Homo sapiens: one gene and its partners. The protein of the gene in region 2 binds, or shares a complex with, the protein of the main gene of each other region. Each region holds a gene or a part of one and is shown on either strand. Other genes may lie near its edges.

The links.
Region 1: CRIPT (region 2) and PLRG1 share a complex: the UniProt entries of both Homo sapiens proteins name them as parts of the minor spliceosome.
Region 3: CRIPT (region 2) and CWC22 share a complex: the UniProt entries of both Homo sapiens proteins name them as parts of the minor spliceosome.

What each region holds. Positions count from the first base shown.
Region 1 is NC_000004.12:154,539,597-154,547,637, reverse strand, and holds part of PLRG1 (pleiotropic regulator 1), read left to right. Parts: intron 1-573; coding exon 574-627; intron 628-1,424; coding exon 1,425-1,515; intron 1,516-1,714; coding exon 1,715-1,802; intron 1,803-3,091; coding exon 3,092-3,193; intron 3,194-5,358; coding exon 5,359-5,451; intron 5,452-6,703; coding exon 6,704-6,853; intron 6,854-6,942; coding exon 6,943-7,044; intron 7,045-7,584; coding exon 7,585-7,687; intron 7,688-8,041. UniProt on the Homo sapiens protein: Involved in pre-mRNA splicing as component of the spliceosome. Component of the PRP19-CDC5L complex that forms an integral part of the spliceosome and is required for activating pre-mRNA splicing.
Region 2 is NC_000002.12:46,619,612-46,627,652, reverse strand, and holds part of CRIPT (cysteine-rich PDZ-binding protein), read right to left. Parts: intron 8,027-8,041; coding exon 7,972-8,026; intron 3,890-7,971; coding exon 3,786-3,889; intron 3,491-3,785; coding exon 3,426-3,490; 3' UTR 1-3,425. UniProt on the Homo sapiens protein: As a component of the minor spliceosome, involved in the splicing of U12-type introns in pre-mRNAs. Involved in the cytoskeletal anchoring of DLG4 in excitatory synapses.
Region 3 is NC_000002.12:179,968,494-179,976,534, forward strand, and holds part of CWC22 (pre-mRNA-splicing factor CWC22 homolog), read right to left. Parts: intron 5,310-8,041; coding exon 5,141-5,309; intron 4,754-5,140; coding exon 4,700-4,753; intron 2,584-4,699; coding exon 2,448-2,583; intron 2,364-2,447; coding exon 2,157-2,363; intron 2,071-2,156; coding exon 2,008-2,070; intron 1-2,007. UniProt on the Homo sapiens protein: Required for pre-mRNA splicing as component of the spliceosome. As a component of the minor spliceosome, involved in the splicing of U12-type introns in pre-mRNAs. Promotes exon-junction complex (EJC) assembly.

The DNA of each region.
Region 1 (8,041 bases), on a different chromosome or scaffold from region 2:
TTGCCCCTCCTGGCAGGACTTATTGTGGTCGTACAGTATTTAATGGCCGTACCTGTATTATAATGGAAGTTTTGATCCTCATGGGAATACTGTTGATGACTTTTTTCTTATAGGAAATAAAAATGGTAGTATAATGATGGCAGAGATTCTTAGAGTGTGGAGAAGGTCACAGTAGAGATTAAAGGAAAAAATTGGAGAATATTCTTAACCTGTGAGGACACCATCTATCTTGTCTGTAATTCAGAAAGATGAAATTAAATACTGAAATCTTAATAAGTAAAGAGAATTCAAGATTCCACAGGAAACCATTTGCTTGGAAGAAATACCAGAGTGGATTGTCACTTGATAGGAGGGCTTCTTTGTATACCATTGCTATATAGCAAATGGTCAAGGACATGGTTTACAGAGATCAAAGCAAAAGTGATCAACTTCCCTTATTTCTGAGGCTTGACTTTAGTTGAGAAAATTTGATAGATCCAGTTGAAAACTTAATATTACTTGATACATTTAAAGAGATGATAACTTTTGTATAAGGTAAATTCACTACTGTTGATTTTTTTTGTGTTTTTTTAGGACAAGAAGTTGAATACTTTGTGGCAGGTACACATCCATACCCACCAGGACCTGGTTAGTGAGCTGTTATATATTGAAAATGTCTTAAAAATGTCACATATATTTTCACTAACGAGCCAATAATGAGATTCTTGTTGCCTATAAAATGCAAGATAAGCTCAGTAGCCAAGCATCCATGCATAGCTTTGTAGGTAATAATGAATACTCATATGCCTTCATTCAGCAAACATTCTTAAGTACGTATAATTTTTCAGGCAATGTGCTAGGAATTCAAAGACAGTAAAACTGTTGCAGGCCTAGTTATTTATTATCTGGTGGTTTAGGCAGACATGTAAATATCACTAAGCTTGTAAAAATGATGGAAATGTTAGAAGCAGTATCTGAGAAACATGTCCTCTGTCTGTATTAAGGCATTGGTCCACAGATGGAGTGGCCAGTGTAACAGGGTAGAGGACAAAAGGCTTAGTATGTAAAGAAAGTACAGGGAAATTGGGTGTTTCTAGTTTTAGTAAGTTACATCCACTCTTGGAAACATTCTGTTAGTATTTGAGGAACTGCTTAATACTGACTTGAAACTAATACCCAAATATAATGGAAATTAACTTTACTATTCTGGGCTGCTTTAATACCATGTGGGCTGTGATCAAATCAAATTTGAGTTACGTGTTATTAAGCAGTATTTATTGTAGAAATTAAAAACAAAGATGAGCAAAACTTAATCAAATTTGTATAATATCACTGCCTGGAGATAATAAACATTTGGTGTATGTTTTCCTTCATCATTTTATTTTAAGTGCATGTAAATGAATAATACACAGCTACTAAAAGAAGTTGATTTTTCATTTTAATAGGGGTTGCTTTGACAGCAGATACTAAGATCCAGAGAATGCCAAGTGAATCAGCTGCACAGTCCTTAGCGGTGGCATTACCTTTGCAGACCAAGTATGAAATATTATAATTACAAAGATCTTAAAAGCATATTTCACTGTTCACATTTTTTCTTTTTAAAATTTCTTTATAACTATTATATGACATTTTCCTTTATCAGGACTTTATAACAATTTAAAATAAAGGGTTAGTTTTGCAGAATACATGACTGGAGGCATTAATTACTTTGAAAATATTATTTCTTTTGCCCCAGGGCTGATGCAAATCGTACTGCCCCTAGTGGAAGTGAATACCGACATCCTGGGGCTTCTGACCGTCCACAGCCTACAGCGATGAATTCAGTAAGTTTTTCTGCATCAAATAGCAGGTTTCTAACTTTTGGAACATGTTGCCATATTTCCCTCTTCTTTGGAATTATTAAGATAAATAGCAGCCTGAGCTAGTCATTCATATTTCATAGCCCTAAAACTCAAGTTGGTAGTAAATTAACGTATTTTTTGGAATTTAATTCTGTTATTTGTCTACTTGTACATTGTGTGTAATATATATTTTGATAAAGATAATGTGATGTTGGTATTTATTGCCCACTATTAAAAATGCAAGGAGAGTTTTTCTGAAACTTGTGTTAGTATGTATTGAATATGAAAGTCTTTTTTTTTTTATTAAATTTTAAGTTGGTGTGTACAGTTATCTTGAGTGCTGTTAGTGTTGTACTATTCATGGGCTATACAACTAGTCTTATAAATGAGCATTTAGAAATAAGTTTATCTGTTTGTAAGTAAATGGCAACTGGTATTAGTATGGTAGAAATAGTTGTTGAATTTTCTATAGTTATTTTATTGATTTATCTGCAGCATAATAAAATATGCTGCCACTTGAAATAAGTGCTGGTTTTGCTTCTCAGCTCATTATGCAATTGATTTGACTTTATGAAGTGAATGAATGTGTAACTGCCACATCTCCTTTCCTCCTTTATTCCATTCAGAGCACGTCTTCTGTCCAGGCTCTCTACCCTCCTTATGAGGGTATAATTTAAGCTTCTTGAGGGCAGGAACTTTATGGGCTTATTTATGTTTTGGATGACTAGATGACTGCTAACAACAGATGGTATATCAGGCAGTATACCTGTTAAAATAGTATTTAAATATTGTATTAGAAGATAAATAGAAGGAACTGTCAGTCTTTGCTATATTAAACCAATAATGTTAAAATATGACAATGAAAGACAGTGGCACTAATACACTTAAAATGACTTTAATATTGGGAGCTTACATGGAGCATTTACTACTTATTAAATCTTTGTAGTAACCCTATGAAATAGGCACTATTCTTCCCATTTTACAGGTGAGCCACATAGAGGTTACATGATTGTTACCTAATGTCAAACAGCTAGTAATTGGCCAAGCTGGGTTTTGAACCCGTACACAGTGATGTGTGCTCTTAAGTCTAATGCTCTGCCTGTCTGTGATTTTATAATTGCTTTTTTAAGTTAACATACAGAAAATTGTATTTCTTCATTTATGGAAAAATTCTTTTGTAAGTTCCCTCTTTCCATTTCCATTTCTGAATTGATATCATGAAGCCTTAGGTATGATGTCTTTAATAATAATAATGTCTCTTCTATGTCTAGATTGTCATGGAGACTGGCAATACCAAGAACTCTGCACTGATGGCTAAAAAAGCCCCTACAATGCCAAAACCCCAGTGGCACCCACCGTGGAAACTCTACAGGGTGAGTGACTCTGCATTTATTTTATTATGTGAACCATGATTGCTTTGTAGTTGACAAGCACTGAAGAATAGAATAAGGAGGAAAAAGAGTGAATATGAAAAGCTGGTAGAGCGATCTGAGGTGGATTGAGAAGAGTCGTAGGGAGTATCTTAAAAGATCTCTTGGGAAGGTGACTTCCTTAAGCAAAAGTTATACTTTTATATAAAATAGTATGAAATGTCAAGATAAAGCTACTAAATATGGATGGCAGACTAAATAAATGTAGAAAAAGTGTTCAAAGTATTTAGTTTGAAGGTGAAGGGGAAAAACACCATATAAAGAAATTTATTTGGGCCTACCAGTTACTCTTTCAACTACAATAAATGAAAATGATTCAGAGTGTATCATCTAAAAGAAAATGGACATGCATGCTAACTTCAGCAGCACATACACTAAAATTGGAATGGTACGGAGAAGATGAGCATGGCCCTTCCACAAGGATAACACAGATTCGTGAAGTGTTCCATACTGTTTATTTTGCATTGCTTGCCTATACCAAAATATCTCATGTACTCCATAAATACATTTCTACTGTGTACCCACAAAAATTAAAAACAGAAAATTTTAAAAAAGAAAATGTACATAGTAGGAAATGTACAGCTACACATAATTTAATATGTATCTTAAAAATTTCATTTTTCAAATGATTGTACAGTAAGAGCCTTTTTGTTTGACATACAGCTCTAATGAATTGTAATAGATGTATTGATTTGGGTAACCACTACCACAATTAGGATATAGATGTTACACCACCTCAAAAAACACCCTTGTGCTATTCGTTTGTAGTTACACTTTCCTTCACCTCTGACAATCACTGATCTGTTTTCTATCACTATAGTTGTCTTATTTTTTTTCAATAATTTCAGTTCTAATTTATTTTTAATTTTTATGGCTAACATAATAGATGTGCATATTTATGGGCTACATATCAAATTTGATACAAGCATACAGTGTGTAGGCCAGGCATGGTGGCTCATGCCTATAATCCCAGTGCTTTGGGAGGCCTAGGCAAGCGCATCTCTTGAGCCTAGGAGTTCAGTACCAGCCTGGGCAACACAACAAAACCCCGCCTCTACAAAAAAATACAAAAATTGGCTATGTGTAGTGGAGCACACCTGTAGTCCCAGCTACTCCAGAGGCTGAAGTGGGAGGATCACTTGGGCTCAGGAGGCGGAGGTTGCAGTGAGCCAAGATCACGCCACTGCACTCCAGCCTGGGCGACAGAGTGACACCCTATCTCAAAACAAAAAACAAAGAAAAACATACAGTGTGTAATGATCAAATCACGGTAATTGGGATATTATTTCTTTGTATTAGGAACATTCCAATTTTACTCTTCTAGTTATTTTGAAATATACAATAAATTACTCTTAACTGTAGTCACTCTATTGTGCTACCAAGCTAACTAGCCAAACTAGTGCTACCAAACTAGCTAACCAAACTAGTGCTACCAAACACTAAATCTTACTCCCTTTATCTATTTTTGTACCCGTGATCCACCTCTTCTTTATCTTCTGCCTCCCCACTATTCTTCCCAACCTCTGGTAGCCATCATTCAACTCTGAAGATCATTTATTTTTTAGCTCCCGTATATGAGAGAGAGCACGCAATATTTGTTTTTCTGTGCCTGGCTTATTTCACTTAACATAGTATCTTCCAGTTCCATCCATGTTGTTGCAAATAACAGAATTTCATTCTTTTTTATGGCTGAATAGTATTCCATTGTGTGTATGTACCACATTTTATTTATCCATTCACCTCATGATGGACACTTAGGTTGGTTTAGCTGTGTCTTTTTGACTATGTCATATAAATGGAATCATACAATATGTACTTTTTGAGACTGGCTTCCTTCACACAGCTTAATACTTTGTGAGTCATTGAAGTTGTTGCAAGTATTAATAATGTATTCCTTTTTATTACTGAGTAGTTTACATTATATAGATGAGCCACAATTTGTGTTAACTATTAACTCACTGAAGATAATTTCATATTATTGTAAAATGTAATAGTCATTATCTTTTATGATTTGAAGATGGGAGGGCAATTCAAACTCGGGCTGCAGTTAAACTTAAATACATTTTAACTTCTACGTTGGCCTGCCCATTCTACTTTGTTTTATACAGGTTATCAGTGGGCATCTTGGCTGGGTTCGATGTATTGCTGTGGAACCTGGAAATCAGTGGTTTGTTACTGGATCTGCTGACAGAACTATAAAGGTAATAATGAAGGAAGAAAAAATAAACATGACTTTGTGTTTGTCATGTAAGTTTAATCAGTTATTATTTCCTGTGGCAGGAATTGCTATTGCAGTTCCTCTGTTATTTTAGACCTGAATAAGGAGTAAAATTTATCATTTATACTAATAAGTGTTCTAAATAAATATCTGTTTGAAAAGTGCTATTTAAACCACTTTTTCTTTACCTACTGAATACCTACCACTAATTCCTTTATACTTACATTGTTCTCTCCAACTGGTTACAAAATTAAGAGCATGCTCATTCATAGAAAATGTGGAAAATATAGAGAATTAGGAAAGTACATAGACCTGTATATAATCCTACCATTGTTAGATATTTGGATAAGTTTCGTTTTAGTATTTATTTCTGTAAGTATCAATACCTTCACTTCTAAGCTCTTTTCCTGTGTGTGTATCTTTTAAAAAATCATTCTTAGTATGTAATTTTGTATCTTGCTTTTTTCACTTAACGTTGTATCAAAGGCATATTCCTGTGAAAAATTTACCATCTTTTAAAGTGGTTGCATAATATTATATCATTTAGATAGTCTGTAATCTGTTTTCCTATTACTGGACAGTAGAGTTTTTAGTCTGATTTTCACCATTACAAGTAATGCTGTTAAGTTTTGTATATAAGACTTTTTCTGTATTTTAAATTATTTTGTTATGGTAGAGTTCCATAAATGGAATAAATGGGTCAAATATTTTTGAAGCTGATACCCAAAGTACAAATTACTTTCCAAATGGGTGAATCGATACTTGCAGTGTATGAGAGGATCCTTTTCAGCACATTGGTTGTACATTCCTTTACAAATATCTAATATGGTAAGCAAAAATGGATACTTAATCTTTTTAAAAAACTTTGTATGAAATTTCTAATGAGTGTGAACTTTTTCATATCTGTATTTGCTGCTTTTAGGATTTCTTTAAGTTGTTGCCAGCCTCAGTTAATTTAATACCATACTTTTCTTACTGTTATTATCAAAGATATCATTTATATAACAAGAAGGTTAACCTTTTGTCATCTAATTGCAAATATTTTTCCAGTTTGAGCATGCCAGTTTTTTTCTTGCTTTTATTTGGAGGGGAGTCATTTTGCAAAATTTTTTATTTTTACGTATTTGTTATCTTTTTCCTTTTGTCTTTGAAAGCTCAGTTTTAATAATCAGGTTTCTAAAATTTTGTTTTGCAGTAACCAGTGAAAGAAAAAAATAAATATTCTTTGATTGCAGATCTGGGACTTGGCTAGTGGCAAATTAAAACTGTCATTGACTGGGCATATTAGTACTGTGCGGGGCGTGATAGTAAGCACAAGGAGCCCATATCTGTTCTCTTGTGGAGAAGACAAACAAGTGAAATGCTGGGATCTCGAATACAATAAGGTAAGTTTGGAGTTAAGGATTTAAAACATTGTGAACTACTATTTATCTTTCTAATTCTAGAAGTTTTAACTTTCCTGCTTTGTCTTTAGGTTATACGGCATTATCATGGACATTTAAGTGCAGTGTATGGTTTGGATTTGCACCCGACAATCGATGTGTTGGTAACCTGTAGTCGAGATTCAACTGCACGGGTAAATGGGATAGAGTTGTGTATTTATCTGTAAATATATTGCATCTTGTAGGGTGCACTTTCGGTTTCAGTGTCTTCAATTGATTGATAGAGAATTAAAGATAGCTGTCTTGAGTCATCAATATCCTAGTCCCTAAGTTTCTTAACTTGCATTTTTTTCCACCTTAGTCTTCAGTTGTATGGCCTCACCATGTTAGTGTTATTAGTGCCCTGCCCCTGAAATGTGATATTCTCACGTTCCATTCTGTAACAACTATTGTCCATTAGTTCTTTCATTCAGTAGTCTTAAAAAGTAGTCCCATCATACTCATTCTTAGATTTTCAGTACCCTGATCTTTTAGCTTTTTAGAATTCTTGCAAGTTGTCTCCTATTTATATTCGTCCTCCAGTTTGTAAATCATTATCTTTCACTTAAGCATTTTCTTTATTATATTCAGGCACTAGTTATGTAGTAAATTTTCAGCCTTGAATTGATCCAGTTATCTTCTTGAGATAATGAATACCTATTCTCTTTCCTAATATGTCTATTGTGTTTTTATAGATTTGGGATGTGAGAACTAAAGCCAGTGTACACACATTATCTGGACATACAAATGCAGTTGCTACAGTGAGATGTCAGGCTGCAGAACCACAAATTATTACAGGTATGATCGATACTTTTCAAGTTTACAGAATATTCATGTCAGAATCCATGTTATTATACATATACTTTTAATATTCATGATGACTCTTGCTCTGTATTGTGTTTACAGTGTTTCTGTGTCATATTTTAATCATGGACAATTGAAATGTATTCAAATGAAATTTCATTCCACTGTTTTTACCTCATGCTTTTTACATATCATAGAGTATGCCATACATAGTATCCTGTAATGTCTGACTAGAATACTGTGTTATGAACAATTATTATTTTATAGTGTCAAAATTATTTTTCTAAGAAATTGAAGTTAGAAGACAAAACATCTTGAGACTAGTAATCTTTAGAACTGATTTGAATC
Region 2 (8,041 bases):
GCCAACATGGTAAAACCCCATTCCTACTAAAAATAGAAAAATTAGCCAGGCGTGGTGGCATGTGCCTGTAATCCCAGTTAGGTTGGGAGGCTGAGGCATGAGAATCGCTTGAGCCTGGGAGGTGGAGGTTGTGGTGAGCCAAGATTGTACCACTGTACTCCAGCCTGGGCAACAGAAGGAGACTCTGTCTTTGGGGAAAAAAAAAAAAAAAGATTTAAATGTAAGACTTCAAGCTATAAGAGTCCTAGAAGAAAACCTACGAAATAACATCTGGACATCAGCTATGGGAAAGAACTTACGGCTAAGTCCTCAAAAGCAATTGCAACAAAAACAAAAATTGACAAGTGGAACCTAATCAAACTAAAGAGCTTCTGCACCGCAAAAGGAACTATCAATACAGTAAACAGACAACCTACAGAATGGGAGAGAATATTCACAAACTGTGCATCTGAAAAAGGTCTAATGTCCAAAATCTATAAGGAACTAAAACAATTCAGAAAACGAAAACCAAGTAACTCGTGGCCAGGTGTGGTGGCTCACTCCTGTAATCCCAGCACTTTGGGAGGCTGAGATGGGTGGATCACCTGAGGTCAGGAATTCGAGACCAGGCTGGCCAACATGGTGAAACCCTGTCTCTACTAAAAGTACCAAAATTAGCCACGCTTGGTGGCAGGCACCTGTAATCCCAGCAACTCAGGAGGCTGGGGCAGGAGAATCGCTTGAACCCGGGAGGTGGAGGTTGCAGTGAGCTGAGATGGTGCCATTGCACTCTAGCCTGGGTGACAACAGTGAAACTCCATCTCAAAACAAAAACAAAAACAAAAATACACACACACAAACAAAAACCCATTAAAAAAATGCCAAAAGACTTGAACAGACACTTCTCAAAAGACAACATACAAGCGGTTAACAAACATGAAAAAATGCTCAACATTACTAATCAGATAAATGCAAATCAAAACCACAATGAGTTACAATCTCACACCAGTCAGAATGGCTATTATCAAAAAGTCAAAAAAATAACAGATGCTGGTGAGGCTGTGGGAAAAACGGAATGCTTCAACACTGTAGAAGCCAGTGCAGTGTAGAATGCGCCTACACTGATGGAAATGCAAATTAGTTCAGCCACTGTGAAAGCAGTTTGGAGATTTCTCAAAGAAGTTAAAACAGAACTACCATTTGAACCAGCAATCCCATGACTGGATATAAATCCAAATGAAAATAAATTGTTCTACCAAAAAGACACATACACTCACATATTCATCACAGCACTATTCACAACAGCAAAGACACAGAATCAACCTAGATGCTCATTAATAGTGGACTGGATAAAGAAAATTGGTACATATACACCACAGAATACTATGCAGCCATAAAAAAGAATGAAAATCATGTCTTTTGCAGCAACATGGATGCAGCTGGAGGTCATTATAGTGAATATACACAGGAACAGAAAACCAAAGACCGCATGTTCTCACTTATCAGTGGGAACTAAGCAATGGGTACACATGGACATAAAAATGAGAACAGACATAGGGGACTACTGGAGGGAAGAGGGGAGGGAAGGGGTGAAAAACCACCTGTTGGACTCTATGCTCACTACCTGGGTGACAGGATCATTTGTACCCCAAACCTCAGCATCACAAAATATACCCATATAACTCACCTGCACATGTACCCCTACATCTAAAATAAAAGTTGAAATTATAAAAACAACAACAACAACAAAAAAAATGAAATGTGAGTTAGGCAAGTCCAGATTCTAGCTGATCCCTGAGAAATGTACTTTTCTCCAAGTCAATGAATCCAATCTTTAATGGATCTGGGATGCTCTCTGACCAGGTCCTGTTATGAGTTTCCTGTGTTATAATTAAAAACCCCAAACTGATTAAGCATGAGAGGATACTTCCTGCTCTCAGATAAATTATTTATTATATTCTGTATTATCCTTGTAATTTTTCTGGATATGAATAAATAACAATGTATCTCAGAAAAACACATTTTGAAAAGCCTTATAAAGTTAAAACTTTAAATGCTTTTCATCAAAATGTTATGACCAATAAAAATGCCATTCATGTATCTCATCACACTTTCTATACATTTTGTAGTGATATGTATTTATACATACTGCAGTTGGAAATAGGGAATGCTTTTTTGGTTTCCCACGGTAGGCTGCAGGTTTTAAAAGCAGAAGTCCTGAACCTCTGAAGGCAACATAAGAAAAGTATTCATTTGAAACCTGTAGTGTTAAAAAAAAAAAAAAAAAAAAAAAAAAAAGAGAGAGGCCAAGTTCTGTGGCTCACACCTGTATCCCAGCACTTCGGAAGGCTGAGGCCAGAGGATTGCTTGAGATCAGAAGTTCGAGAACAGCTTGGGCAACATAGTGAGTCCTCATCTCTACTAAAAATAAAAACTAGCTGAGCACAGTGGCACACGCCTGTAGTCCCCAGCTACTTAGGAGGCTGAGGGGGAAGAATTGCTTGAGCCCAGCAGATGGAGGCTGCAGAGAGCCTGATGATACCTCTGCACTCCACCCTGGGCAACAGAGTGAGCTCTTGTATCCAAAAAAAAAAAAAAAAAACAAACAAATTTTAAAAAGGGAGAGTCAAGATGTTTGCTCTATTTATTTCTTTTAGGGGGCAAGACAGGAGGTAAAAAAAAAAAAAAAAAAGTTTGGTTTTTGCTTCAAAGAGCTTTTCTCAGAGCAGGGATTTATTTTCATTACATGCAACATGGACAAACACTGTTCTGGTTTTCATGACAATTTGAATTCAAAGTAATATGTTTTTCTAAAATTCAGTGTATTTATTTGGCCATATGGATGCTCCTTGTGTTCTTGGTCACATATTAAAGAAACTGGCACTTTGGCTGCAAGAACAAATAAAAAATATCATAAATCCAACTGGTCTTTGATTTGGGTCTAGGTTAATAACTAAAGAACCATTCAGCAATAATGGCTTGAAACATTTATATATCCTATGAAACCGCAATTAGTTAAGAGGCTGCTGATTCTAATAACTATGACACCAGCAAGGGAGTGAGGGGAGAAATGTTAACTCTGGATGCCAAATTCAGAGCAAAGTATCTATTATCTCCTTCTCACTTTTGCAGTATCTATAAATAAAGTGGTGGGGGGAGAATTATATGAATAATGTTAAATAAAAGTGCATACAGAACTGAGAAATATTTTCATGGAATTTGCCACTTAGTTCTTAAAATTCTTATAAGGAAAATAACCATTTACAACAAAAGACTAGTTACACTGTTGCTGTTTAGAACATGAGAGCAAAATGAGTAACAATCAAATTCTCTGGTTTAAACTTAATTATCTTAAAACATGTTATTCTGTAAGTTGACATCTATGCCTTGAAAATTCAAGGCAGAAAGTAAAATCATTTAGAAAGCCAGAAATTCCATCAATACATCTAGACAGATGTTTGCTTGTAGTTTTTGGTATCCAAAACCTTTTTTCCACACATCGCACAGATGCCTGAAACAAAAGAAGATATGTGATCAATCAAATCATAATACCAACTGTTTGGTTTAAGTCAATCCTGAAGCTTAAAACATAATTTAACAGCATCAGGAAAGAAAAGAAAAGAAAAAAAAAATATATATATATATATAATTTTAATTATAAACAGGTTTTAGGTTCTATTTTGCCTTAGGATAAAGAGAGTGTTTGGCTAACAGAATTTATGACAGGCTACATCTTTTCTGTTAACCAAATTAGCAGCAAATGAAGTCGGTTTTATGAATAGAAAACGGTATTAAAAGAAACTTACCTTTTTTGTAGGCACAGCCCTGGCAGTAATGAGAACCTGGTTGGTGCACAGAACTTTTACAAATTCTACAAGTGGAGAACTTATTCTTTCCATATGGATCAAATCTAGAAATTTTTTTTAAAGAGAGAAAATTGTATATTACACTAGAAACACTCTTAAATAACCCCACTTACGCAACACACAGGATTAATCCATGCTCTCCATCCCTCCATCAACCTCTACAATTGATGGGTTTAGCCTATTCCAGATGGCTACTGTCTGATATGCCTGTACATCTCTGCTCTGCTCCATCCATGTGAGATATATACTTATAAAGAATCAGTTGTACAGTATTTATTCTTGACGTGTTCATATCAGTCGTATCTGTCATTCTATTTGTGTGACATAAATATTATGGAAACTGATGAAATGTGGGTGCAAAAAGAGTGACTGATTCCATATAACCTAAGTGACTATTTTAGGATGACTAGGAATCATATGAATTGCTATTGAATTAGGTATGGGTAAGACAACTGTTGAAAACTGGGGGAAAATCACTAGGAAAGTAACTCCACACCTCAAGCATCAATTTTTGCTCTACTTTAAAGAAACTGAACATATTCTGATTGTGATTTTTGTGACGACAATCATGTAAAGCACTTATCAGTCGATTTATGCTCAAAAGGCTTTGTTTCAATACCAAATGATTAATGCATCTACAGTTATGCGCTTTAATTTAAAATAAAGTATGTGTATCTTTTAATGACTGCTTACATTAGCTGACATTTTTAATTAACTGACTCAATCCTTTTAGATAAAAGGGCTTCCACTATATAAAAATGCCATCTTATAGTGACAGGAGTGAAAAAAAGAAATACTTTCCCCTAAAATGGCAATAATACTCTGATTTAAATGTGCTTCCCTAACATTTTTACAAAATGAGTTTTTGTAATGATCCTCATATACTAGATACGAAACACCGTCCTAGAACTGGTGTCTTCTCTTGGGTATAGTACAACAGCCCATTTACAAAGGTTAATTTTTCCAAACACAGAGAATATCACTTTTTTTTTTTTGAGACTGAATCTCACTCTATCGCCCAGGCTAGAGTGCAATGGCGCAATCTTGGCTTACTGCAACCTCTGCCTCCCAGGTTCAAGCAATTCTCCTGTCTCAGCCTCACAAGTAGCTGGGATTACAGGCATGCGCTACCACGCCCGGCTAATTTTGTATTTTTAGTAGAGATGGGGTTTCTCCATGTTGGTCAGGCTGGTCTCGAACTCCCAACCTCAGGAGATCCGCCTGCGTTGGCCTCCCAAAGTGCTGGGATCACAGGCGTGAACCACTGCGCCCAGCTGAGAATATCACTTTACTCCCCACAAAAGATAGGTACTCTTCTTCCTTTCAATAAGTTCAATTTGTTTGGACATGTATTTCCAGAGGCTATTTTTTCTTAAAACCATATTTTATTATTCAAAAATACACATTGTAACCTTGGAAATCTTTTTTTTTTTTTTTTGAGACGGAGTCTCGCTCTGTCGCCCAGGCTGGAATGCAGTGGCGCAATCTCGGCTCACTGCAAGCTCTGCCTCGTAGGTTCATGCCATTCTCCTGCCTCAGCCTCCCGAGTAGCTGGGATTACAGGTGACCGCCACCACGCCCGGCTAATTTTTTTGTATTTTTAGTAGAGACAGGGTTTCACCATGTTAGCCAGGATGGTCTCGATCTCCTGACCTTGTGATCCGCCTGCCTCGGCCTCCCAAAGTGCTGGGATTACAGGCGTGAGCCACCGCACCCGGCCTAACCTTGGAAATCTTAAAACTGGCAGAGTTTTTTCTTAAAGTAACAATGCATCTTATAAATAACAGTACCATAGATTCCAAGCAATACTGTAGTACATTTTCCAAAGTAAGAGAGTACCCAAGAGTTACAGCTACTTTTTAATGATATCAGAGTAAGTTTGAGAGCATAAAGGAACTGGAAGTATATAAAAGCATAAAATCTGTACAAATAATAGCTCAGTCAATAAAAACAGAATGGTTCTCAAAGACCTCAATAAGTCAGTCAATAATATATAGTGTGAATCTGCATTAAAGATGCTATTATGTGCTAGGCACTGTATGTAGTTAAGGCTTTATTGTTGTTATTTCTAATCCTTGGGATGACATCAGAAAACAGGTATTTATTCATTCAGCAAATATATACTGAGTGCTTAATATTACATGGTATTTACTGTTCTAAATACCAAAGATGAACATGATAGGCAAAGCCCTTGCCCTCATCAGATAATATTGTAGTGAGAAGAGGTAAACAGTAAGTAAGGAAACAGACAATCTAATAAAACAAGCAAGGTTTTCAAATAGTAGTATTATAGAGAAAATTCTAACAGGATACTAAGGCAGAGATGAGGAAAAGGAAAGAAGAGATTAGTTTAGATGCTGATTAGGGAAACTTCTCTGAAGCTGAGACCCAAACAGCAAGAAGGAGGCAGATACGTAAGCTCTAACGGAAGACTCCTAGGAGACAGCAGCAAGTACAAATCTCTTTGGATGGGAGTGGGCTTGGCAGAACTAATAAAGACAGCATATGATGAATGAGGAGCAGTGTGGTACAATACGAAGCCGGAGAGGTGGGAGGGGTCATATTAAGGAGGACCTTGTAAGAACATGGTAGGGGGCTTAAATTTTATTCTATGTGAAAAAGAAAACCAGTGGCGGATTTTAAGCAAAGGAACTTTGTAAAGGATCACTCTCGTTACTATGAGACAACTGCGGGAAACTAGAGAAGCAGGAAGATAGTTCAATAGTTATTACAGTTCCAAGTAAGAAATAACAGTGGTTTGGAAAAGGGTAATAGCAGTGAGATGTACAGAAGCAGGTGGTTTCAGGTTACATTTTACGTTTTGGAGGTAGATCCAAAGAACTTGCTGATGGATAGGGGAAGTAGGGGAAAGGGAGGACTCAGTGAGGAATTCTAGCTTTTAGGCTTGAACAAGTGGATTAGAGAGTGGTGCTACTATGATGAGAAGACGGAAGGAAAAAGAAGTGGCCTGTTAGACATTAAATGAGGTATGTCAGATAAACTGCTAGATATACGTTTAGAGCTCAGAGAAGTCAGGCCAGAGGTATAAATTTGGGAGTTATATATATATAATAATATTATAATATATATATAATAATATTATTACATATATATATATATAACATATAGCTTGAATTTAAAGCCAGTAGATTGAAGTCACTCTAAAAGGTCACTTGTGATCTCGACAAGAACAGTTTCAGGGCTGTTGTGGGGATAACACATGACTAGAGTGGCTGAAGGAGGGAAAGGAACTTAAGGACACTGAAAAAGTGTCTAGGTAAGACTTTGGAAAACTTCTGATGTGAAGGGGAGCAAAGAAATCAGATGGCAGATGAAAGGGTTCACGAAATTTTTTTTCTGAAAGAGACTCTCACTCTGTCAACCCAGGCTGGAGATCAGTAGTGCGATCCTGGCTCACTGCAGCCTTGACCTCCCTGGGATCAAGTGATCCTCCCACGTCTGCCTCCTGAGTAGCTGGGACTACAGGCGCGTGCTGCCACACCCAGTTAATTTTTCTGTCCTTTGTAGGACAGGGTTTCACATGTTGCCCAGGCTGCTCTCAAACTCCTGGGCTCAGATAATCTGTCTGCCTTGGCTTCCCAAAGTGCTAGGATTACAGGTGTGAGTCACCTTACCCAGCCGAATTTTTAAGCTGGATATAATAAAGTGTGGTATCAAACACTTGTTTTTAAGATGGGACACTTTTTACGCAATTCTCAGGAAAAAGTAAAGTTTAGAAAGGTCACGAAACATGCTTAACTTGCTTAAGGTCATAAGGCTAGACAGTGAGTCTAGATTCAAATTTAGGTCTGACTCCAAAGCTTATGATCTTTCCACATTTGCCTGCTGTCTCTGATTCATAAGATAATTAAGAAGGAGATAAAATAAAAGTCATGTTTTCTGGTGAAACTGTAAGAGAATAACACTAATATCTTCATATATTGATACAGTGAGGAGGAATAAGGTAAAACCAGCAGGATTATAACAGATAGCTTGGTTCTGAGTGCTAGGAACCACCTAACTCTGTTTTATTGCAAATGGAATGATGCACATCAAATTCACTCCAGCAGACTTAATACTAAAAGAAGGAAATTTATGTGACCCATCGATGGATCCTCTTACCCACCTTGCTTTTTTTGAAGTCAAAGCTTTATTTTCATTCAGCTTTCTTCCACCACTTTCTGTATCAGAATAAA
Region 3 (8,041 bases), about 130 Mb from region 2:
AATTTTATAAAATATATATATAATACAAAATATAAAAAACACCATTCTCACTAAATTTGTTTTGTAAAATAACAATTTTTCTTTTTTTTTTTGAGACGGAGTCTCGCTCTGTCGCCCAGGCTGGAGTGCAGTGGCGTGATCTTGGCTCACTGCAACCTCCACCTCCCCAGTTCAAGCGATTCTCCTGCCTCAGCCTCCTGACTCGTTGGGATTATAGGCATGCACCACCACACCCAGCTAATTTTTATATTTTTAGTAGAGACAGGATTTCACCATGTTGGTCAGACTAGTCTCGAACTCCTGACCTCGTGATCCGCCCACCTCCGCCTCCCAAAATGCTGGAATTACAGGCATGAGCCACCATGCCCGGCCCGTAAAATAACGATTTTCATAAAAATATGTAATTTATGTTAACATATACTAGGTTTGCTATTATTCTGAAATAATTTAATAAATATTCTTTTATATTGTTTTAACCTTTAATATAGTAAATAGCAATAGATACAACCCACATAAAAAGAAGCTCTTTGGAGTTGCCAATAATTTTCAAGAGTGTAAAGGGATCCTGAGACGAAAGAATTTGAGAACTGCTATAATAAAAGAAAGTACTACTTTCCAGGCATTGGCCAATTGCCTAGATGCTAAAGAAATGGATAGAGAATTCTCAAGTTTAAAAAAGAAAGAAATCAAATCAGGTGTATCTAAGAATTTCACAAAAAACATTTGGCATTTTTCAGGGAGACTGTAGGAAAAGAGGTTCATAAGAAAAGAAGGCAAAATGGATCTATGGAGTTCTCTGTTTGGAAATGAAATTATAACAGAAAAAAAGAATCTGGCATATTACAGTGAAAAGCTCCTAGGAAATCAGCATCTAAGAAGAGAAACTCATTATTATAACAGGTTTTTAGGATAATGCAGAGGAATGGAAGATTTCTCCCAATTTTACTTTTCATTTCAACCTTCTACTTCTAAGCACTACTGAACAATGGAATGCAGACAGAGACAGAGTTCTAGGTTTCTGCTTTCTCTGTATATGAGACTACATAAGGCTGGTCTTTATGTTAAAAGCAAACAAATGACAAAAACTAAAATTACATTTTGCCCAATGGTGCTGTTAGCCTGATAAAAGATTTTGCAAAGCTAACCAACTCTTTACATTTCTATTATAATCAGAGAGCTTTTAATACAAACTTTTGGGGTTTAATACAAAGGTAAATTTTATTGCTTCCACAGCAATAAATACTTCTCCAGTAAAATTACAACTCAAGAGAAATAAGCCCATAAAATTATTATGTAAGTAGGCCTGAGTGTTAGCTTTAGGAGGAAAATAATACAAATGTGAAAATAGTAACTAATAATAGCTATCATTGTAGGTGATAATACACAACACTGTGTTTTATATATCCTTCCATAGAAAGGTAACATTTAGTCTTCCAACAAACAAGTAACTTGCTACAGGTCACTCAGCTAGTAATGTCAAAGATAAATTACACATCAAAACCTGTCCAAAGTTAGTACTTACAATATACCAATGATGTACAAATGAAAATGATCAATTTATTTTATCAGAGAGGCACCAATACTATGATTCATCCTACCAGAAGGATATTAACCTGACCTCAAGAAACAATAAAGTATAGCACTTTACAATAAAGTATACCACTTAATTGAATACTAAACTGGGTGGCACAGAATGTAAATGGTAGAGAAGCTAAATAAAGGCCACCACTAATCTATGAATATTTCTTAAGATGGGTGAGACGTAAGTGTTGCATAGTTTAGAGGGAAAGAGGAAAGAACAATGGGGTAAGTAATTCAGAATGAAGTAAAAAACCCTGGGCAAGCACCAGGAAAAAAATAATGCCCGAGGAAACAGCTAAGAGAATAACTTTATAAGAGCAGCGATTCATTAGGTGGGGATCTCTAAATATTTGCTATCAGTATTACGTAACTACTTAAATTGCTTCTACTTATCCAAACTAAATTATTTTATAAAATTTTACATACCTTTCTTAATAGCTTTGTACTTCTCTTCATTCTCCATAAAATTAGGATCCATCTTGAAAACATCTAAAAAAAATGTAAAAGTTAATGTTTATTTTCTATATTTACATTTGTTGGTAAGCCTCTTTCCAACTAACATGCCCCGGACTTACTAAGAACATCTTCTGGATTATAGTCATCCTCCAGAGGGAGCATATGAGTGAATTGATCATCTTCTTCCACCAAATCAAGACCTTCTAGGATAATGGGGTGGTCCTTGAATCCATCTTTCCGTACAGCAAACATCACTTCAATCATATATTGAACTCTTTTGTCAATTTCAGACTCATGCAGAATGTTTCGAAGGCGTTCAAATATAGCTAAAAGTTAACAGAAAGAAAAGACAATAAAATAAGCAATAAATATAATAAAAACTTAACATCAAACTATGAATGTACACTTACCATTGATTCCTCTTGGTGACACTTGTGTTAATTTGAGGCCACATTCCTTAAGAAAACCAATAGCTACTTCAACGCTATCATCTGTTGGTCTTTCCAGGAGCAAAGTGAGCATCTCTAAGCATAATACTTCGTGTGCCTTAAATAAAATACATATACAAGGAAGAAACAAAATGCTTTTACATACATTAAATTATTTTTATAATTTCTAAAAATTAGTAAATCTGTTTACAATAATTATATTGCACATATGATGGGCAAAGTTTTATAAAGCACATGGAAATACTCCAAATATGGGATACAATTTTTCTATCACTTTTATTATCTGTCTACTAAGAATTTTCAGATGACTGTTTCAAAAATCTTAATTTTCTATGCTGAATACAACTATTTGAATTATCTTCAGAAGAAATATTCTTAGCCATTATGTACGGAAAGTGTCATAGATAAAATATGTTAAAAATCATATACTACTTTCTAATAAGGTAATTATTTTCATAATTACTACATAAGAAATAGTAATATGATTTATAATACCCTTCTCCATGATCACAATTCTTTATATACATTTCCCAATTCATTCTATCAGCAACTCTATTAGACACAAATAGTCCTTAAGTTACATGAATACTAATTTTATCACAAAATATCTTAACAACTTCTGGAACACAACAGTTTTGAATAGTCTATCTTTTTTTAAAAAATTAAATCAAACTATTACTGGCCACGTTCAAAAACTGACATTTATAAACAATGCCAGGAAGAGTGGGAATAAAATTCTATTGAGAAGTTTGCTAAGAGAAGAAAACGAACAACAAAGAATGTTTAAAACACCATACATATGCCTTTCTAAAGTCAGACAGTGATTTAAGATGGTGAGGAAAGAAGTCTAAATCTCAACTCAGGAGATATCTTCTTCCAGCTGTGCACAACATCAAAGACACCCACTACTTCTTTTTACTAGGGGAGGAGGGGTGTCAAACAGTCTTAGGTCAGTGACAAGAAAATACTGCCCTGTACCACAGCTGGAAGATGCAAAAAATTTATCATATCGAGTGTTTCATGGCAATGCCAAAAATCTCTAGTCTAAGTGTAATACACATTTAAAAACGGAAATATATCTCTGGTTACAGATGTGAAATTAAGTTTCCATGGTCTTAAGTAGCAAGTTATCACTGTAATAATATGATGACTAATTAGGTCAAAATCTAAAAGATTTGTAAGAGTGAAAGAATTTTCATGTAAATAAGAATCAAAATATTTAATATTAGTGAAATAAGACTAAGCATGACTTTAAAATTCTTCCTGTTATACATGATATTAAATTGGAAATGATAATATATATCTGAAGGAAACTTTTGAGTATGAGCAAGGACAATTTTAGCATTTTCATGGTTAAATAAAAGCTAAATCAAAACCATCAAATAATGAATATAAAATAAACACAAACTGAATAACAGCATGATAAAATTACCTGCATTTGAAACAGATTAAAATCGATCAACTCTATTCTATCAAGTGATTCTAAAAATATATGACTATACCTGTGTGGTTGCAAGGAATAGAGGTTTTTGTAGAATATCAGATATTTATTAGATTCTCATGAACAGCAGGGAATGAAGTGGAGGAGATACCAACTTTATTGTTTTATAAAAATGAAGGGAATGGTTCTTCAAAGGAATGGTTTGCAGTCAAGTAACCATGTACAGTATTAAGTCAGATTAATTTGATAAATATCTAAAGTGTTTTGATCAGCATCAAAGTGTTATATTAAAGAATATTAAATATGGCCAGGCGTGGTGGCTCACACCTGTAATCTCAACACTTTGGGAGGCCGAGGCTGGTGGATCACGAGTTCAGGAGATCGAGACCATCCTGGCTAACATGGTGAAACCCCGTCTCTACTAAAAATACAAAAAAAACTAGCCGGGCGTGGTGGCAGGTGCCCGTAGTCCCAGCTACTCGGGAGGCTGAGGCAGGAGAATGGTGTGAACCCAGGAGGCAGAGCTTGCAGTGAGCCAAGATTGTGCCACTGCACTCCAGCCTGGGCGACAGAGTGAGACTCCATCTCAAAAAAAGAAAAAAAAAAAGAACATTAAATATATTTATTATAGTTTTAAAATGAAAATATCATCCAACATTTTTATCCCAAGGACTATAAAGCAAAGCAAAAATAGAGAGGTATCAGTGAAGTGGCATCAACCCTCTGGTCTAATGCCACTGAATGGGACCAAGTATTGAAGATAATTACTTACCACATTTTGGTTAATAAGATGCGCCACAAATTTTGAAGCAGTCAGGCAAAGTTGCTGAAAAATAAAGGTGGAAAGTTAACCTATAAACTAAACCCAATTTTCATTTATTTACATAATCTATGGCCTACTAACATCATCTATTTAAAACATGTACCACACAAGTATAATTTTTACATTATAAGAAAGTTACAAAATAAAACACATGAAAGAGTATCCCTTCTGGTTAAATAGTTATAGTTCTACAGTTATAGCCATCATTTTTGTGGCTCATCAATAGTGGCCAGGGATATTTAACAGATCAAAGAAGTTCTCATGAAAGACAGTTTTTAAAAAGCATTATGTTATGTAGCTGTGTCAAAATCAACCTTGCTTACTTTTGTTGATACTGGTTTGTTAGTTTGTTCCTATGTATCATTCTACTTACAAGCCATTCATATATACCTTGTCATTTCTTCGATAGCCTTTTCGAAAATTAAGAATTAACCTTTTGAGGATTAATTCTCCAATTTGTGGAAATTTTGAGTTGATAATTGCCACTAATGCTGCATAAACATGGGTGAAGATTGGAGAAGCACTCTGTGCTTGCAAAACAGACCTGGACAGCAGTCCTCTGTTTAAAAAAGAATTTAAAAAGGAGTCAACAATAATCACCAAATTAATTAAACGAAACAAAAACTATTAAAATTCAGTAATATTTCTCTATAAGTAATCATAAAATCTAAATCAGAACTAACTGGAAAGAGTTTGTCTTACTAATAAATAAAAATTGTTTTTCAGAAAACGAAATGTGAATTTGTGATTTTGTAAAATAGAATGAAGATTTTACTGCAATTTATCACCAAAATTTTTCTCTCTACATATAATTCCTCTTTTCCCAGTCTGTTATATCTAATCATGAATTTGAACCTTAAAAAGGTTCATATAAATAATTTCTTTAACATTTTTTAAAAAGTAAACAAAAGCAGACCTGCTTCAAAAGTATAAAAGGTAGATAACATAAAGTTTCTACTACAGATCTGTCATTTTTATAAAATTAATTTTGTGATTAAAGACAAATTTGGGTTTAAATCTTTAAGTCTAATTTTAGTAGAATAAAATGAAGATGTGGAATACTCCTGTGAGAAATAAAGAAACGAATTAAAAGCAATGCCAGATTAATGCTAAAACAGTAACAGGAAATTAAAAGGTACCTACTTGTAACTCATTTTGAAAATGGTCATGTTTCTATATGCATTTGATGAGGAAGGGGAAAGGCAAATTGGGCAAACTAAAGTTACTTTTAGCAATGTAATGACAAGTAATTATTGGATTGCCAAAAGTCAGGAAAAAAAGTCTTAATGGTAGTTTTAGATATGACAACTGAATCACTAGAGTGGAAAATAAGAAAAAGGATGCAGCTTATAAATTATAGTATCTTTAGCAATCCATAACTCTTCTAAGTCTACTTTTTTTCTAAGTAAATTGGAGAGATCTCTGCCCACTTTTGAGGATAATGGCTGTCTCTTGATCAACTTTCTCTACCTCTAAAACTTGCTGCTCCTACTTTATACCCCCACCTTTTTTGGAGAGGTTGGGGAGAGACAGGGTCTCACTCTGTCACCCAGGCAGGAGTGCAGTGGGGCGATCTTGGCTCACTGGAAGCTCTGCCTCCTGGGCTCAAGCAATCCTCCCACCTCAGCCTCCGGAGGAGCTGGGACTACTGTGTGCCACCACGCCCAGCTAATTTTTGTATTTTTCATAGAGACAGGTTTTCACAATGTTGCCCAGGCAACTCCTGGACTCAAGTGGTCCTCTTGCCTCAGGCTCCCAAAGTGCTAGGATTACAGGCTAGGATTACAGCGACCGTGCCTGGCCACTACATTCCATATTTTTTTAAAGATGAATCATAGTCATGTAAAATGACATGAGAAAACAGCCCTCAGATTTTAAAATAATAAATACAACATGGAGTAATTCTATTTTCTGACCCTTTTAAATATCACCAATTGCTTAAAGCCACATATTCTTATAGAATACGGTGATTCCCTTCTGCTTTTCTAAAATGTATTGCTCATCTTTCCCATTTCTCTCACATTCCCATTTCACTCTCACTAGAAATTAAATTGGAATAAAGGCCATATATGACGAACCCATAGCTAATATACTCAACGGTGACAAGCTGAAAGCTTTTCCTCTAGGATCAGGAATAAGAAAAGGGTGCCTACTCTTTCCAATTCTATTCAACATAGTACTAGAAGTCCTAGCCAGAGCCATTAGGCAAGAGAAAGAAATAAAAGGTATCCAAATCAAAAATAGAGAAGCCTGTTTGCTGTAAACAGGATCTTAATATAGAAAACCCTAAAGACTTAACCAAAAAATTGTTAGAACTAATAAACTAATTTAGTAAAGCTGCAGACACAAAATCAACATACAAAAATCAGTAGTGCTTCCATATGCTTACAATGAACTATCTTTCTGAAAAATCAAGAAAACATCCCATTTACAATAGCTATGAAAAAAAAAGTTAGGAATAAATCTAACCATGGAGATGAAAGAGCTGTACACTAAAAACTACAAATTGCTGATGAAAAAATGGAAGAACATGCATGACATCCCATGTCCATGGACTGAAATAATATGTTAAAATGTCCACAGTACCCAAAGCAACATACAGACTGGACTCAATCCCTATCAAAATTCCAGTTACGTTTTTCACAGAAATAGAAAAAACAATCCTAAAACTCACATGGAACCACAAAAAACTCCAAATAGCCACAGCAATCTTGAACAAAAAGAACAAAGCTGGAGGCATCACACTCCCTGACCTGGAATCTGCTACAAAGTTATAGTAATCAAAACAGAATGACAATAGTATAAAAACAGACACATAGAGCTACAGAGAACAAAGAAACCAGAGATAAATCCAGACATTGGCAGTCAACTGATTTTCGACAAAGATGCTAAGAAGACACAATAGGGAAAAGACAGTGTCTTCAATAAATGGTGCCAAGAAAACAGAATACCCAGATGCAGAAGAATGAAAATAGACCTTAGTCCCACAGCATATACAAACATCAACGCAAAACAGATTAAAGACTTAAACATTAGACCTGAAACTGTGAAACTACTATAAGTTTCTAAAAGAAAAATACAAAGGAAAAGCTCTGAGACACTGGTATGGTTAATGATTTTTTGGATATGACCCCTAAAGCACAGGCAACAAAAGCAAAAAGAGACAAATGGGATTACATAAAACTAGAATGCTTCTGCACAGCACAGGAAAATATCAACAGAGTGAAGAGATGACCTACAGAATGGGAGAAAACATTTGCAAACATACACCTGATAAGGGGTTAATATCCA